Linked DNA regions of Homo sapiens: region 1 is linked to region 2. Evidence: fine-mapped expression QTL. A gene starts in region 2. The other region holds a variant in brackets. All regions are shown on one strand. Distances are from middle to middle.

The links. PIP is the estimated chance that this variant, and not a neighbour inherited with it, causes the effect.
Region 1: its variant is fine-mapped to the expression of SCRN3 in tibial artery (GTEx, PIP 0.92).

The regions. Positions count from the first base shown.
Region 1 is chr2:174,445,529-174,453,869 of GRCh38, forward strand. GPR155 (G protein-coupled receptor 155) reads right to left here. Exons shown (of 16, transcript NM_152529.7): 11 at 8,209-8,313; 12 at 1,083-1,219. Among named protein-coding and RNA genes, the nearest start is that of GPR155, 37 kb to the right of the region's middle. The variant A/G (reference allele first, on the strand shown) is at 4,817.
Region 2 is chr2:174,390,866-174,399,164 of GRCh38, forward strand. SCRN3 (secernin 3) reads left to right here and starts at 4,865. Exons shown (of 8, transcript NM_024583.5): 1 at 4,865-4,952; 2 at 7,410-7,577. The coding sequence starts at 7,419. It overlaps CIRSR (corepressor of RBPJ and splicing regulator), which reads right to left and starts at 4,847. Exons shown (of 10, transcript NM_004882.4): 1 at 4,686-4,847. The coding sequence starts at 4,757. RefSeq lists a silencer at 1,195-1,359 and enhancers at 4,746-4,795, 5,293-5,793.

The sequences.
Region 1 (8,341 bases), 55 kb after region 2:
GCAGCATTTCTTATTTTTTGATTTTTGTTCTTAAATGGCACTTAAAGTGGTATTGGCTGATATCACACTATCTCACGAGCATCCCAGTGTGCAAAGCGTTCCTTCATAGGTTATCTGGTCCATCTCCTACCTCTGGACGAGTTACACTTGAACCATCTCAAAGAATTATATAATAAGAACTGATAATTCACAAATAGGACATTTAGTAATCAAAGAAATGCATGTAGTCTAAAAATAAAATACTGTATTTTAATTTTCTCTATTTTGTAAGGGTCTATTATATGAAGTAGTTATGTTATTTTGATAATTGAAAATTATTTTTTAAAGTTTATCTGAGGAATATGTTCTGAGAGGTTTTTTGGTTTTCTTTTTTTTTTTCTGGTGGACACTGAGGTTTCATGTTCTGAGACATTAATGTAGGCATTTATCCACTTTGGTCAGTCAGGTATGTTAGGAATAAGTGGCCCTGTGTACATTATTGAAATAGCTGCTTTTGGGCCTGGCGCAGTGGCTCACGCCTGTAATTCCAGCACTTTGGGAGGCTAAGGAGGGTGGATCACCTGAGGTCAGGGGTTCAAGACCAGCCTGACCAACATGATGAAACCCCGTCTCTACTACAAATACAAAAATTAGCCAGGCATGGTGGCATGCGCCTGTAATCCCAACTACTCAGGAGACTGAAGCAGGAGAATCGCTTGAACCCGGGAGGCAGAGGTTGCAGTGAGCTGAGATCATGCCACTTCACTCCAGCCTGGGCAACAGAGTTAGACTCTGTCTCAAAAAAAAAAAAAATAAAAAATAAAAAGAAATAGCTGCTTTTACCAAATTCTAGGTTCAGAGCATAGAATGAATAAATGATTCTAAGCAGAATAAGCTATTGGAGCACTCAGGCCTCAGAGTAATGTGAATGATTCATCTCTTCCCCTCACACCTGCAATTATTTAGCTCAAGATCCAAATTCAGGTGACCTAGCTACCACACTTCTGGAAAGCAGCAACTAAGTTTTTCCCGGATGCCTGAATAAAACCTTTGCCAAAAATTTAAAGAAATGGCCCCAAAACAAAACCAGAAAAAACCATTACAGCGAACAGGCCAATGATGAGAAGTAAACACAGCAACACATGTCGGGTCAGTTGCTGGTCTCCACTCTGTAGATACTGTTCTTCTTCCTGGGCTAATATGCAGCTCTGGGAGTTACAGCGACTCACACAATGATTGTCTATAAAAGAGTAAGCACAACAATTTGTAATCAGAGCTTTTTATCTAAATGCATTTTAAATTTGTAATGACTTCCTAAGAGAAACAACAGAAAAGCACATTCAGCTAAGAATCAGTATATTATTTTAGATGAAATTGGAAGAAAGCTCCTTCATGTTGCTTTAGAAGAATTCTAGCTGAAATGTTTTTATCTCAAAAAACATAAGTAGAATACAATAGTTCCCTTTTACACTATTCAACAATGTTTTATATATATAATTATCTAACATAAGTTATATAATTTGGTCTTTAAAAATTATACATAATTTGCCTGGGTGCGGTGGCTCATGCCTGTAATCCCAGCACTTTGGGATGCCGAGGCAGGCAGATTACTTGAGATTAGGAGTTCAAGACCAGCCTGGCCAACACGGTGAAACCTCATCCCTACTAAAAATACACAAATTAACTGGGTGTGGTGGCGGGCACCCGTAATTCCAGCTACTTGGAAGGCTGAGGCAGGAGAATCGCTTGAACCCAGGAGGCAGAGGTTGTGGTGAGCCAAGACTGCACCACAGAGTAAGACTCTGTCTCAAAAAAAATTAAAAAAAATAATAAAAAATTATATATAATTTTTATATAATTAATATAATTAAGTATAAATTATATATAATTTTTATTTTATATATTAGTTATATAAATAATATATACACATTACATATATAATTATATAACAATTATATATTATGTTATAAATGTATATTATATATCAGTATATATTATAATCATATAAATTTATATATAATTATATATGTAATTTGTGCATATTATATAAATTACAAATTAATATATAAGCATATATAAATAAAAATTTTATATTTAATTATATTTATAATTTACATATATAAATTATATATTAAATATATAATATATATTAGATATTATATATATCCTAAGTGAATTAACACAGGAACAGAAAACCAAGTACTGCATGTGCTTACTTATAAGTGGGAGCTAAATATCAGATACTCATGGACATAAAGATGGCAACAATAGGAACTGGGGACTACTAGAGGTGAGGAGGGAGGAAGGGGGACAAAGGTTGAAAAAGTATATAATATATATTTTTATTTTTATATTGTATATATTAAAATTATATACATATAATTTTAAAGGCCGAATTAATAACTCAAGTTTTATCACTGATAAATCTACATATTAGTCATGAATACCCTATTTTGGCTAACTGTGAAACAAATTATTATTATCTCTTAACCTCTCATTAAAGAGTTTACAATTTGCCTTAACCCCTGCCTTTCACCATATACAAAAATTAACTCAAGATGGACTAAGATTTAAATGTAATGTCTCAGCCAGGCACGGTGGCTCACGCCTGTAATCCTAGCAATTTGGGAGGCTGAGATGGGCGGATCACTTGAGGTCAGGAGTTCAAGACCAGCCTGGCCAACATGGTGAAACCCTGTCTCTACTAAAAATACAAAAATTAGCCAGGCATGGTGGCGGCCGCCTGTAATCCCAGCTATTTGGGAGGCTGAGGCAAGGGAATTGCTTGAACCTGGGAGCAGAGGTTACAGTGAGCCAACATCGTGCCATGGCACTCCAGCATGGGCAACAGAGCAAGACTGTGTCTCAAAAAAAAGTAATGCCTCAAACTATAAGAATCCTAGAAGAAAACCTAGGAAACACCATTCTGGACATCGACCTTTGGGAAGAATTTATGACTCAGTCCTCAAAAGCAATTGTAACAAAAACACTATACTGGGAAGTTTTTTGTTTTTTGTTTTTTGTTTTTTTTTTTTTTTTTTGAGACGGAGTCTCGCTCTGTCGCCCAGGCCGGACTGCGGACTGCAGTGGCGCAATCTCGGCTCACTGCAAGCTCCGCTTCCCGGGTTCACGCCATTCTCCTGCCTCAGCCTCCCGAGTAGCTGGGACTACAGGCACCCGCCACTGCGCCCGGCTAATTTTTTGTATTTTTAGTAGAGACGGGGTTTCACCTTGTTAGCCAGGATGGTCTCGATCTCCTGACCTCATGATCCACCCGCCTCGGCCTCCCAAAGTGCTGGGATTACAGGCGTGAGCCACCGCGCCCGGCCTACTGGGAAGTTTTAAGGTAAAAACAAAAACAAAACCAAAAATTGACAAGTGGGACCTAATTAAACTAAAGAGCTTCTGCATAGCAGAAGAAACTATGAACAGAGTAGACAGACAACCTACAGAATGGGAGAAAATATTCGCACACTATGCATCTAACAAGGCCTAATATCCAGAATCTATAAGGAACTTAAACAATTGAACAAACAAAACACAAATAACTCCATTAAAAAATGCACAAAAGACATGAACAGACACTTCTCAAAGAAGACATACAAGCGGCCAACAAACATGAAAAAATGCTGCACATCACTAATCATCAGAGAAATCAAAACCACAATGAGATACCGTCTTGCATCAGTCAGAAGGGCTATTATTAAAAAATCAATAAACAACAGATGCTGGTGAGGCTGTAGAGAAAAGGGAATGCTTTATACCATTGGTGGGAATGTAAATTAGTTCAGTCACTGTGGAAAGCAGCCTGGAGATTTCTCAAAGAACTTAGAACAGGACTACCATATGACCCAGCAATCCCATTACTGGGTACATATCCAAAAGAAAAAAAATGGTTCTACCAAAAGACTCATGCACTTGCATGTTCATCACAGCACTACTCACAACAGCAAAGCATGGAATCAAACTAGGTGCCCATCGATGGTGGACTGGATAAAGAAAATGTGCTACATATATACCATGGAATACTATGTAGCCATAAAAAGAATGAAATAGGCCAGGCACAGTGGCTCATGCCTGTAGTCCCAGAACTTTGGGAGGACAAGGCGGGCAGATCGCTTGAGCTCAGGAGTTCGAGACCAGCCTGGGCAACATGGCGAAACCCTGTCTCTAAAAAACTAAACAAGTCCGGATGCGGTGGCTCACGCCTGTAATCCTAGCACTTTGGGAGGCTGAGGTGGGCAGATCACCTGAGGTCAGGAGTTTGACACCAGCCTGACCAATATGGTGAAATCCCGTCTCTACTAAAAATATAAAAATTAGCCGGGCATGGTGGCAGGTGCCTGTAGTCCCAGCTACTCGGGAGGCTGAGACAGGAGAATTGCTTGAACCTGGGAGGCGGAGGTTGCAGTGAGCCAAGATCGTGCCACTGCACTCCAGCCTGGACGACAGAGCGAGACTCCATCTCAAAAACAAAACAAAACAAAAATTAGCCAGGCGTGGTTGCACACGTCCGTAGTCCTGGCTACTTGGTAGGCTGAGGTGGGATGATGGCTTGAGCCTAGAAGGCAACAGTTGCAGTGAGCTGTGCACTCCAGCCTGGGTGGCAGAACCAGATCCTGTCTTGAAAAAAAAAAAAAAAGAATGAAATAATGTCCTTTGCAGCAACACGGATGCATCTGGAGGCCATAATCCTAAGTGAATTAACACAGAAACAGAAAACCAAGTGCTGCATGTGCTCACTTATAAGTGGGAACTAAACATCAGATACTCATGGACATAAAGATGGTAATGATGGAAACTGGGGACTACGAGAGGTGGAAAGGAGGGAGAGGGC[A/G]AGGGCTAAAAAACTACTGGGTACTATGCTTAGTACCTGGGTGATGGGATCATTTGTTTGTACCCCAAACCTCAGCATCACATAATATACCCAGGTAGCAAAACTGCACACGTACCCACTGAATCTAAAGTAAAAGTTGAAAAAAACTTTGCCTTAGGAAACACCTTTGAGGAACCATAAAAGTATTATATGCCATGTTTTGTTCACATATGGATACAAACACAAGTCACAGGCATGACTCTTTTCTGGCCAAAAATAGAGGTGAGGGACTTTTCACAGGAAGCCTTTGTTTTTCTACCTTAGCTCCATTCTATATATGGGAGCAAAAGCAAAGAAAAACATTTTTTTTACAAAATAGATGTCTAGTCCAACATATAGTCTTATACAAGTCAGTGATTAAAAACCACAATTCTATAGCTCTTGCCCTCAAGCTAAAAGAAAAAATTTGTATTTCCTAAAACCACATTTTAGAAAAGGCCATGTATACCCATTAAACATGGTCTAGCACAATTGCTGATGGCATGGGGGAAGGTTCATAATGTTGCTAAGTATAAAGAAAGTAGGTTGCCAAACTGTCTCTGTAGTATGATCCTATTTGAATAAAAATTATTTGTATATATGTGTGGAAAAATCCTGGAAGTATACCTATATATAATAAATCTGGTTTTAAAATATTGTGTACAAGCCAGGCACGGCAGCTGACGCCTGTAATCCCAGAACTTTGGGAGGCCGAGGTGGGAGGATCACTTGAGATCAGGAGTTTGACACCAGCCTGGCCAACATGGTGAAACCCCGTCTCTACTAAAAATACAAAAAAAAATTAGCTGGGTGTGGTGGCAGGTGCCTGTAATCCCAGCTACTTGGGAGCCTGAGGCAGGAGAATTGCTTGAACCCGGGAGGCAGAGGTTGCAGTGAGCCAAGACTGCGCCACTGCACTCTAGCCTGGATGACAGAGCGAGACTCCATCTCAAAAAAAAAAAAATTTTTTATACAGATATTACAAAAATGGATAAAAATAAATCTTCTTTCATTTGCTTTTTCATACATTGTTGCCATTCAACAATCTAAATGTGATACTTATTTTTGCCTTTGTACTATGCCAAGGGGTAGAGAATAAATTATATTGTCAACTCTAAAAATTCTAATTTGCCCATGGTTTAATTTCCTTCAGGCTTTATTTTAGGCTTAGGGATGGCACTAAATTGTATGATTAGATGAAGTCCCTATATAATGGCTCTCATTCTATATAATTTTTATAAAATATGATCAGAAAATCCAAGCCCCTACAATTTAAGAGAATTTTCAATGATCAACTTTTTGTTTGTTTATTTTTGAGACAGGGTCTTGCTCTGTTGCTCAGACATGATCATGGCCTATTGCAGCTGCAACCTCCTGGGCTCAAGCGATCCTCCCACCCCAGCCTCCTGGGTAGCTGGGATTACAGGCATGAGCCACTGCATTCAGCTAATTTTTTTGATTCTTTGTAGAGATAGGGTCTGGCTATGTTGCCCAGGCTGGTCTTGAACTCCTGGGCTCAAGCACGATCCTCTTGCCTTTGCCTCCCAAAGTGGTGGGATTACAGGAGTGAGCCACCACGCTCAGGCGAGAATCAACATTATTAATGAAGAAAATGACAGATAAGCAAAGCCTAAGGAGATTTGGGGAGGGAAAAAGAAATTTGCCAAATCAGATTACATGTTGAATTTGTTAATGGATTTTACTACTAGGTATATTGTGTAGGGAGATAACAATAAGGAGGAAAACCTTGGGAATTCTGATGTAAAGAAACGATTTTAGAAAAAAAGCAGACAGATAAAACAAAGACAGTGTAACTGCCAGAAAGGGTTTCTTGTAAAAGAAAAAAAAGTCAATGAATGTTTCATATCTGATATGTTTTCACTACTTTTTATGGAAATGTGAATTCTATTATTATTTAAGATTCATTCCTTGCCAGCAGATAGCCAAATATAAATCCCATCTGAATAACAATAATTACTACTGCTACTACATATTTTAATGACCATTTACTATGTATACCACATACTGTGCTAAGTGATTTGCATACATTGTTTTCTATAATCCTTACATTTCTTATATAAAAACATAATGCCTTTAGCAATAATACAGTTGACATAGGCCTTATCAAAAAGAGCATTTTTGGGGGTTTCCCTTTTTAGTTTGATTATAAATAAGTATAATCAACGAAAAATGCACTGCAATTCCACATAAGTATGTTCGGTTGTTTTGAATAATTTGAAATTTAGGCCACAAATGTAATTCAGCCTCTTAGTCAAAAGGTTATTACTTTTTTTTTCCCCCTAGATGGAGTCTTGCTCTGTCACCTAGGTTGCAGTGCAGTGGCGTGATCTTGGCTCACTGCAACCTCCGCCTCCTGTGTTCAAGCAATTCTCCTGCCTCAGCCTCCCAAGTAGCTGGGATTACAGTTGGGTGGGATTACCACCACACCCAACTAATTTTTGTATTTTCAGTAGAGACGGGGTTTCACCATGTTGGCCAGGCTGGTCTCGAACTCCTGACCTTGTGATCCACCCGCCTCGGCCTCCCAAAGTGCTGGGATTACAGGCGTGAGCCACCTTGTCTGGCCAAGAGGTTATTACTTTTAAAGGTGTTTGTTCCTTATTTTATAAGAATGGCCATATTTAAAGCATAAAGATTCAAAATATAATTAAGAACTAATTAATTAGTCCTGGTCCTAGGGGATGAGAATGGGGGAAAAGTCTGTTTCTAAAACAAGAAAAAAGCTTCCCTCTCTCCACCTCCCACCAAAATGCCCTTTAGGGCAAACTTCCTGGATTTGTCACTTGGGTTAAATTTATTGGAAAATGTGTGTATGACACTACCTATTATCACTTTGTGAGAACTTTATTTTTTAAAGTGAGTATTCTGTCTATGCACAATTATTCCCTATTAGCACTTCTTTGCTCTTAATTGAGGATCTATATTCTTGATGTTTGTAACTTCTATAGATATTCTATGTAGAGTTCTTTTGAGGGATAAGAATAAGGAATCTTCTGGCCGGGTGTGGTAGCTCACGCCTGTAATCCCAGCACTTTGGGAGGCCGAGGCAGGCAGATCACGAGGTCAGGAGATCGAGACCATCCTGGCTAACACAGTGAAACTCCGTCTCTACTAAAAATACAAAAAATTAGCTGGGCATGGTGGTGGGCGCCTGTAGTCCCAGCTACTCAGGAGGCTGAGGCAGGAGAATGGCGTGAACCTGGGAGGCACAGCTTGCAGTGAGCCAAGATAGCGCCACTGCACTCCAGCCTGGGTGACAGAGCAAGACTCCGTCTCAAAAAAAAGAAAAAAAAAAAAAAGAATAAGGAATCTTCTGTCCCTTAATCCCATCCTCATAGTCCAGAGGCACTTACTTTTCTCAAACGAAGGAATCACAGGCTCACTGGTGCTTGTGTTTGCTATTGGCTCTATTGATGGGCAGTGTAATTCACCATTTCCCATGGAGCAGGAGCAGCAACCTATATCAATCAAATAGTATGTGAGAGT
Region 2 (8,299 bases):
GTTTGCTTCCCCTTCTGCCATGATTTTAAGTTTCCTGAGGCCTCCCCAGCCCTGCAGAACTGCAAGTCAATTAAAATTCTTTCCTTATAAATTACCCAGTCTCAGGTATTTCTTCATAGCAGCATGAGAACAGACTAATACTAATACAAGACTAATATGGATCAGTAAACAAACACTTTCTTCTTTTGGGTGGTAAAGTTGCATATTGTGGGACTATACCATAATTTATAATTTATTTATCTCATACTGTATAAATGGGCACTTAAGAAATTTCCAGTATTTTGCTATTAAAAATTTTGCTGCAAGAACTCAATACACAGGTAATTTCACACACATTTGACAGGGTTTTGAAAAGGATCAAGGCATGGCCAAGGAAAAAAACAGGGCAAGATATAACTGGCAGAGAGAATGACTCAGGCAAAGGCCCAGAGATATAAAATAGAACGTAAGTAGTTCAATATTACTAACATATAAAATCTTAGGTTGGGCTGAGGTGGGCAGATCACCTTAAGTCAGGAGTCTGAGACCAGCCTGGCCAACATGGTGAAACTCCATCTCTACTAAAAATACAAAAATTAGCCAGGCGTGGTGGTGTGTATCTGTAATCCCAGCTACTCGGAAAGCTGAGGCAGGAGAATCACCTAAGCCTGGGAGGTAGAGGCTTCAGTGAGCTGAGACTGCATCACTGCACTCTAGCCTGGGCAACAGAGTGAGCCTCCATCTCAAAAAATAAATAAATAAATAAATCTGAGGTGGGAGAATAGTAGGAGGGGAGAAGGAGAAAAACGATGGAGTGAGATTACTTGGACTCAATCCTGTAATATTTTAATAACAGGCTGAAAGAGATCAGATTTGTGCTTAAAAAAAGACAATTCTATCGAAATAACTTACATTCATACAATGGAATATTATTTAGCAATAAAAAGGAAAAAGTACCAATACATGCCATACCATGGATAAACTTCAAAAACATTATGGTGAGAGTAGCCAGTCAAAAAAGACCACAGATTGCATGATTCCATTTAAATGAATTTCCAGAATAGGCAAATCCACTAACAGAAAGTAGATTAGTGCTTGCCTAGGGCTGGAGAGAGGGAGAAGAGTTAAGGAAAAATGGGAGTGACTAACAGGTATGCAGGTTTCTTTTTTTTTGAGTCAGTGTCTCACTGTCACCCAGGCTGGAGTGCAGTGGCGCAATCTTGGCTCACTGCAATCTCCGCCTCCCGGGTTCATGCGATTCTCCCACCTCAGCCTCCCAAGTAGCTGGGATTACAAGCGCCCGCCACCACACCCAGCTAATTTTTGTACTTTTAGTAGAGACAGGGTTTCACCATGTTGGCCAGGCTGTCTTGAATTCCTGACCTCGGGTGATCCACCCACCTCAGCCACCCAAAGTGCAGAGATTACAGGTGTGAGCCACCATGCCCAGCGGGGGTTTCTTTTTGGGGTGATGACAAAGTTCTAAAATTGTTTGTGGTAATGATTACTTAACTCCATGAATACATTTTAAAAACCACTAAATTGTACATTTTACATGGGTGTTTGTATGATATGTAAATTTATCTCAGCAGAGCTGTTAAAATGAAAAATGACTATTCTGATGGCTGTGTAGTGAATGGATTTGAGAGGACTCAAGATTGGAGGCAGTAGAACCACTTAGGAAATGCAACAATATAGGTGAAAGATGATGAGGGTCTGAATTAAGACACAAGCAGCAGTGACAGAAAGGAAAGATGGATTCAAGAGATATTTGGAAGGTAAGACCAATAGCATTCAGTGATTGACTAGATAAAGGAGTGATGGGAAAAGGGATGAATCCTGAGCTTCTGGTTTGGGCAACAGGATGAGGGACTGTTTTACTATCTATATTTCTACCCATATGAGATAGCAAGTATAAAAAGGGCTGATTTGGGGTAAAAAACTTTTATATCAGATATGTTGAGTTTGAGGTGCCTATAGGACATCAAGATGCAAATGTCTAGTAGATAGCTGTCTTGAGCCACATCAAAGTTAAGAAGAGAAAACTGGGACTGCAGATTTGAGTCATGAGTAAACAGGCTAGTTAAAACAGGCTAGTTGGATGTGATTGCTTGGGGCAAGCATACTAAGTAAGCAAGAAGTGGGCCAAGGATGAAACTCTGGGGAACACTTATATTTTAGGAGCAGGCTAAGAATAAAGATCCAGTGAAGTTGATGGGAAAAGAACAGTCTAATAAGAGAGCTGGAAAACTAGAAGAGAGTAGTTATTACAGCTAAGGGAACAGAGAGTTTCACAAAAAAGGGAGTTTACAGTGATGCAATTGTCAATAGCCAGTTTATGAACTGTTTGCCAGTCCACAAGAAGACTAAAGAGCTTGGACCACAATGTAAATTAACTGCTTCCTTCATTAACAAAATCAAGAAAAAAAAAGAACAGCTGAACAAAACAGTGTATCCTGTGACATAAATGATTGAGGCAGCGCATAACAATACACAACAGAGTGACCAGCAGATATACAGCATTCACTCTTATTTTTGGTGAACAAATGAGACCTTAAAACCTACTGGACTTTTTATAAGCTTGGGAAACTGAAAACAAACAAGGAAAAAAAGAACCTACTGGACTTTAATAAACCCAACATGCCTAATTTTACAATTAGAATTTTCTTTCTTTCTTTTTAAATATAGATGGGGTCTCACTTTGTTGCCTATGCTGGTCTTGAATTCCTGGCCTCTCAAAGTGCTGGAATTATAGGTATGAGCCACCATACCTGGCCCTTAAAATTTTCATGGTGGAACTCTTTTGCACTCTTTGATCAAACTCCTTTGTTTCTTCCACTTCTATTAAAAAAAAAAAAAAACTTTACTGGAGTATGACATATAAAAAGCTGTACATATTTAATGTATACAACCTGAGTTTGGTGACAAGTATATCCCTGTGAAACCATCATCACAATCTACACTATAAACATATCCATCACCTCCAAAAGTTTCCTCCTACCCTAATAAATTTTTCTATTTATCTTCATTTAATATAGTTCCTTTATCCTTAGTTAATAAAGAATGCTAGAGGTCACCCCCTCTCCCCATAAAGTGTTAACTATCTAGAAAGGTCTGCTAATCAAAAACATTTCATTCTTCTCCTCTATCCTGGGAAAAGTATAAAACAGATCAAAGAGGCCAACAATATTTGGTACATTTTACATAACACTTTACACAGATGAGAAGAATGTAGGTTCTAAGCCTATAACTGCTTTACTGAATTTCTCATAGCGGACTTGCAAAAGTTATTCTCTGTGGATTTCTTTTTTCTTGTAAGAAAGCTGATACATTGAAATTTATAAAGCGAAATGTCAAAAGTTCCAGTAAAAAATTATGATTTCTCAGGTATATTTGTCTCTAAATATAAACAGCAAATAAGCAAGCACCTGAATTCCATCTAATCTCTTCATTCTTGTAAAAATAGTAACAGCTGACCCCCTAAGTATGCAGAGAAAGGAAATGTCTGTGTTTGGTGTCAAAAGTTATTGAGCCAACCAAATACAAGAAACCTCTCCCTCCCACAGTTGCAACCACACAAACACAAACTGGTGCAGTGGAAAAAAAATCACTGGGTTAATCAGGTGTTCCAGATCCTAGTTCTGGTACAACATTTAACTAGCTGTGTAACTCTTGGCAAATTTGTTTCCTCATTTATAAAATGAGGAGATGGGGCTGGATGATTACCAAAGAGCTTTCAAGGTGTATCTGTGTTATTAAAATTTCATGGGGGAGTTATTAAGAAAAAATGTTTAATAAGACTCCTTAGGAAGGTAACAGTGAAAAAAAAGTTGAGAATCACTGGTCTAGAAGTGAGAGTATATAGCAGTATCTCATCACCTCAACTCGTTCTAAAAACAAATAAAAGCTTAGTTATTTTCACAAGTTTCTATGTAGGGGCAATCAACATTTTATTGAGCACCTCCTCTCTGTAGTGGACACAGTGATAGATGCCTACGTTGTTTCAAATCCTTTATCTTCACTATTTCACTTAATCCTCACAATTAAGTCAATCATCCTTAATTTACAGATTAGAAGACTGAGGGTCAGATATTACAAATATTTTGTGCAAGGTCTTAAGGCTAAAAGTGACTGCTCGAATAACTAGAATCCAGGTTTGACTCCAAAGCTGATTCTTTCTACTTCACTCTTTTGCTTTTCATTACTATGATATTCACCAAAGTATTACAACTGGTAGACCTGTAATTATGTAAAACACTAAACTTCAACGAGTTTAGTCATCAAAAAGACACTAGATTATTAGGTAATTTTTTTAAAGATCTATCTTAAGTAAACGGGGAGGCTTCTTTGTACAGAAAAGTAGAGTTCAGAAGCCGTGATCCCTGGGATCCGAAAAGACAAAAAACCAGAATCAGCTGAAGGAAGTACTGAGGAATTTTGACATTAGTCTTCGCATATTATGGATTTGCATTCTGGCCGACAAAGATTCTCTAGGCCACCGGTCTCCTCGCTGTTGCAGAATAAACGCTGAGGACCCGCTGCGTCAGCGAGCTGCTCAGCAGAGAAAGGCGAGACCACCAGGGCTTTAGGCCTAGAGAAGCGGAGGCTGTCCTAGGGATCTCAGAGACACCATCACTTTCACTTCCAGCAGCCTCTGGGAAGGCGGTCCCTGTGGGCCTAATCCCTCCCCGGGTCTGTTTACTCACTTTTTTGATATTGGATTTGGAGGCAGGATGAAAGTCTTTCTTGCACATGAAGTTGGCGAAGGATTTCCCCATCTTGGAACTGGAACTAGGGAAAGCAGGGGCTAGATCTGTTAGCAACGTAAACAAACTCAGCCGCCTAACCGGAACTGCGTTTCCAGCAGCAAGGGGGAACTTCCGAGATCAAAGGTGACAGCTTCCGGCAACTGATGCCTCCACTGGCCACTCCTCCCTCCGTCCACCTGTCACTTCGGGTAGCTGGGAGGCCAGGTGAGGGGCGCGCACGGGGGAGGGGCGTGCATAGTTGAGACAGAAACCCGGAAGACCCAACTGTGGCGCGGCACTGCTTGACCGAGGGGCTCCGGAGCCCAGCTGCACCGGCTGCGGTTTGAGCGCCCAGGGCCGGGGTGCGGGGTGGACCGCGGCGGCCCTTCGACCAAAGGTGCTTGAAGCTCGAGCCCATTACTTTCTGTGGACTCTGACTCGAGCTGCAAAAGCTTTTCTGCACTGTTTTTCTCATCTATGTTATGAAGATAATAATTCCGGCCCTAACCGTAGTATGCTTGCGAGAATCCAACAATATGATGTTTCTGAAAGCGCCGGCTGAACTAAGAGCGCGTGAAATAGAATGACAGACAGCTCTGCAAGAACGGAGGCCCTGTCTATTTTGTACCCAGCTGTACGGTACTGGCGCCGAAAGACGTTCAATAAATACTTATTGAATGACGAATACGCGTTAGGAGTTGGTAAAATCTCTCAAGGCTTCACCTCCTCAGTGGGCTAGGTGCAATTCTAACCAGGGGGCAAGTTTCCTTAGCTTTCCCTACGACCCCAGTTAGGCAGCTCAGGTTACTATTGCAGCTTGATGGCCCTTGGGACTCCAGGTTTTTGAGTGGACGTGGCTGCTACTGCAGCAGGTGATCCACCAACCAAGTTCTCTATCAGGGTAATGTTAAGAATAAACCTTGGCCGGGCGCGGTAGCTCACGCCTGTAATCCCAGCACTTTGGGAGGCCAAGGTGGGTGGATCACCTGAGGTCAGGAGTTCAAGACCAGCCTGGCCAACATGGTGAAACCCCGTCTCTACTAAAAACACGAAAAATTAGCCGGGTGTGGTGGCACGCGCCTGTAATCCCAGCTACTCGGGAGGTTGAGGCAGGAGAATCACTTGAACGCGGGAGGCGGAGGTTGCAGTGAGCCAAGACTGCTCCATTGCACTCCAGCCCGGGCAACAAGAGTTAAACTCCATCAAAAAAAAAAAACAAAAAACGAATAAGCCTTTATGAGAAATTTTCTCTCCTACCAAATAATAACAATAACAGCTTTCATGTGAGTATCTACTATGTTCTATGCACTGTGCAAAACACTTTACGTGTTGCCTTATTAAGTTCTCATAACAGCCCATCAAATAGTGTCTTATTTTTCTGATGAGGCAGAAGGCATAGGTAAGAGAGAGATTAAATAGTCTGCCAAAGTTATATAGTGATAGAACTAACTATAAAACACAAATAGAAGGAGATCCAGGACATAAGAGTTGAAATACAGAAAGAAAATAACAGAAGCCATCAAGACATCAGACTTCTCGTCACTGAGGAGAAGAGGAAAACCCTTAAGAGTTTCAGTCTGAAGTTTTTATTTAGTCATTTTCTTTTCTTTTTAAGGAAACATTTATTATATTTAAATTTTGTTTTTAAGTTGCTAGCATCTGCCTGTGTAAAGCCATTTTAAGGTTTTGCCATTATTAAAGGAAAGAAGGAAACTCTGTAAAACAATGTGTCTGTTCTGGCAGCAAAATAAGGACCTTTAGGTGTTCTATTATAAGTGAAGATCTAAGATTTTCCAAGTTACAACTGAAGAGGTAATCTAGATATTAAAGTATATAATTGCGATTTATAAATTAAATATGTGAACTTTCTCCTAGAAATATCAGCAATTTGGAATTATATTGACATATTTTTGTCTGAATCAATGAGTCTGTTTCAAAATTTCAGTCTCATCAGAATTATAATGTGTATTATTTCCCAGCTCAAATAAGACCCCTTCTTCCTTCCTTTGAGGAAGTACTGGGCACGTAAGATTTTTTTCCATAAGACAAGTTCCAGCAAAGAGAATATAAAGATTAGTAAGACATACTCCCAGCCCTCAAGGATCTCATTGTCCAGTAAAGGGATTTATATATACACGAATGTAATGGAATCTAGCCTTTACAACAATAGAGCTAGGTACACGGATTCCCAAATATGGAAATGGTGAAACGAAATTCAGGGAAGACTTTAGGAGAGAAAGGTCTTAGAGAATAAATGTGAACTATACAGTAGAAGAAGGTAGTTCTCATTGCCATTTTCTTACTGAGTTGTAGTACCAGATTGAGTCCCAAGTCATATTCTTACTGATTTTTAGGCTGTAGTATACAAAATTTAAAACTTTAATGAACAGCCAAGCACGGTCACTCATGCCTGTAATCCCAGGGCTTTGGGAGGCAGAAGGGGGAGGATCTCCTGAGCCCAGGAGTTCCAGGCTGCAGTAAGCCCTGATCATACAACTGCACTCCAGCCTGGGTGAAAGAGCTAGACCTTGTCTCCAAAAAATAAAAATAAAAAAATCAAAGCTTTAATGAACATCCTTAATTAGATATGGCAATAATATCCTTTGGTCATTGAGTAAAACTCTTTATTTTTATATACTTAAAAGTGTTCTTTTTATTTTAAAACATCTGTATAATTTTTAGTTAAAAAAAATGGAACCTTTTTCCTGTGACACTTTCGTGGCATTACCTCCAGCAACAGTCGATAACAGGATTATTTTTGGAAAAAATTCAGATAGACTCTATGATGAAGTACAAGAGGTGGTTTATTTTCCTGCTGTAGTTCATGATAACCTGGGAGAACGTCTTAAGGTAGGTGAAATAAATGTTTTGTTAGCAATATGCCTTTTAAAAATATCATAAAGTTATTTCTATACATAGCAATTTGGAAGAAACTGTAGAAGTTAAAATTGAGGAGTTTACATTTGAAAAATAAATGAGTCAGAAATAAACTGTGATCTTTTATTTCAGTGATTCGGAGGACGTTGAAATAACAATAATAAAATTATCCATTGTTTGAATAAATATTTGAATGCTTTCCATATGCAAGCATGTTAGATAGGGCAAGAGATTTAAAGTCAGCTGTCAAGACTCTGTTCCAGGAGCTTAGAGTCTAGTATAGCAATAAGATGTGTATGCATTATACCCCATTATAAAATAGGATGGTTTAAATGCTAAATTTAAGTAACAGTAGCATGCTGTGGCAGCGGAAGAGAATGAACATTTAATTCAGCTTGGAGTTAGCTGGAATTTGATGGACAAAAAGGATTCTGATTCTGAATTGGCTTAGGTTCTACTTGATGTAGAATAGGAAAGTCATCCCAGACTTTAGGAATGACAGTTTTATGACACATCAAAAAAGGTTTATTAGGCCCTATGTTAACACTATCAATATACATTTTATGCAGTCACTTGGTAGTATACACATTAATTAAAGGATCCTTTAAAAACTTATTTTAAAAACCCATTTAATGTGGAACTTAAAATGAGAGCTTCAAATTATGCTATTGTTGCTAATTCATACTTTTTAGATT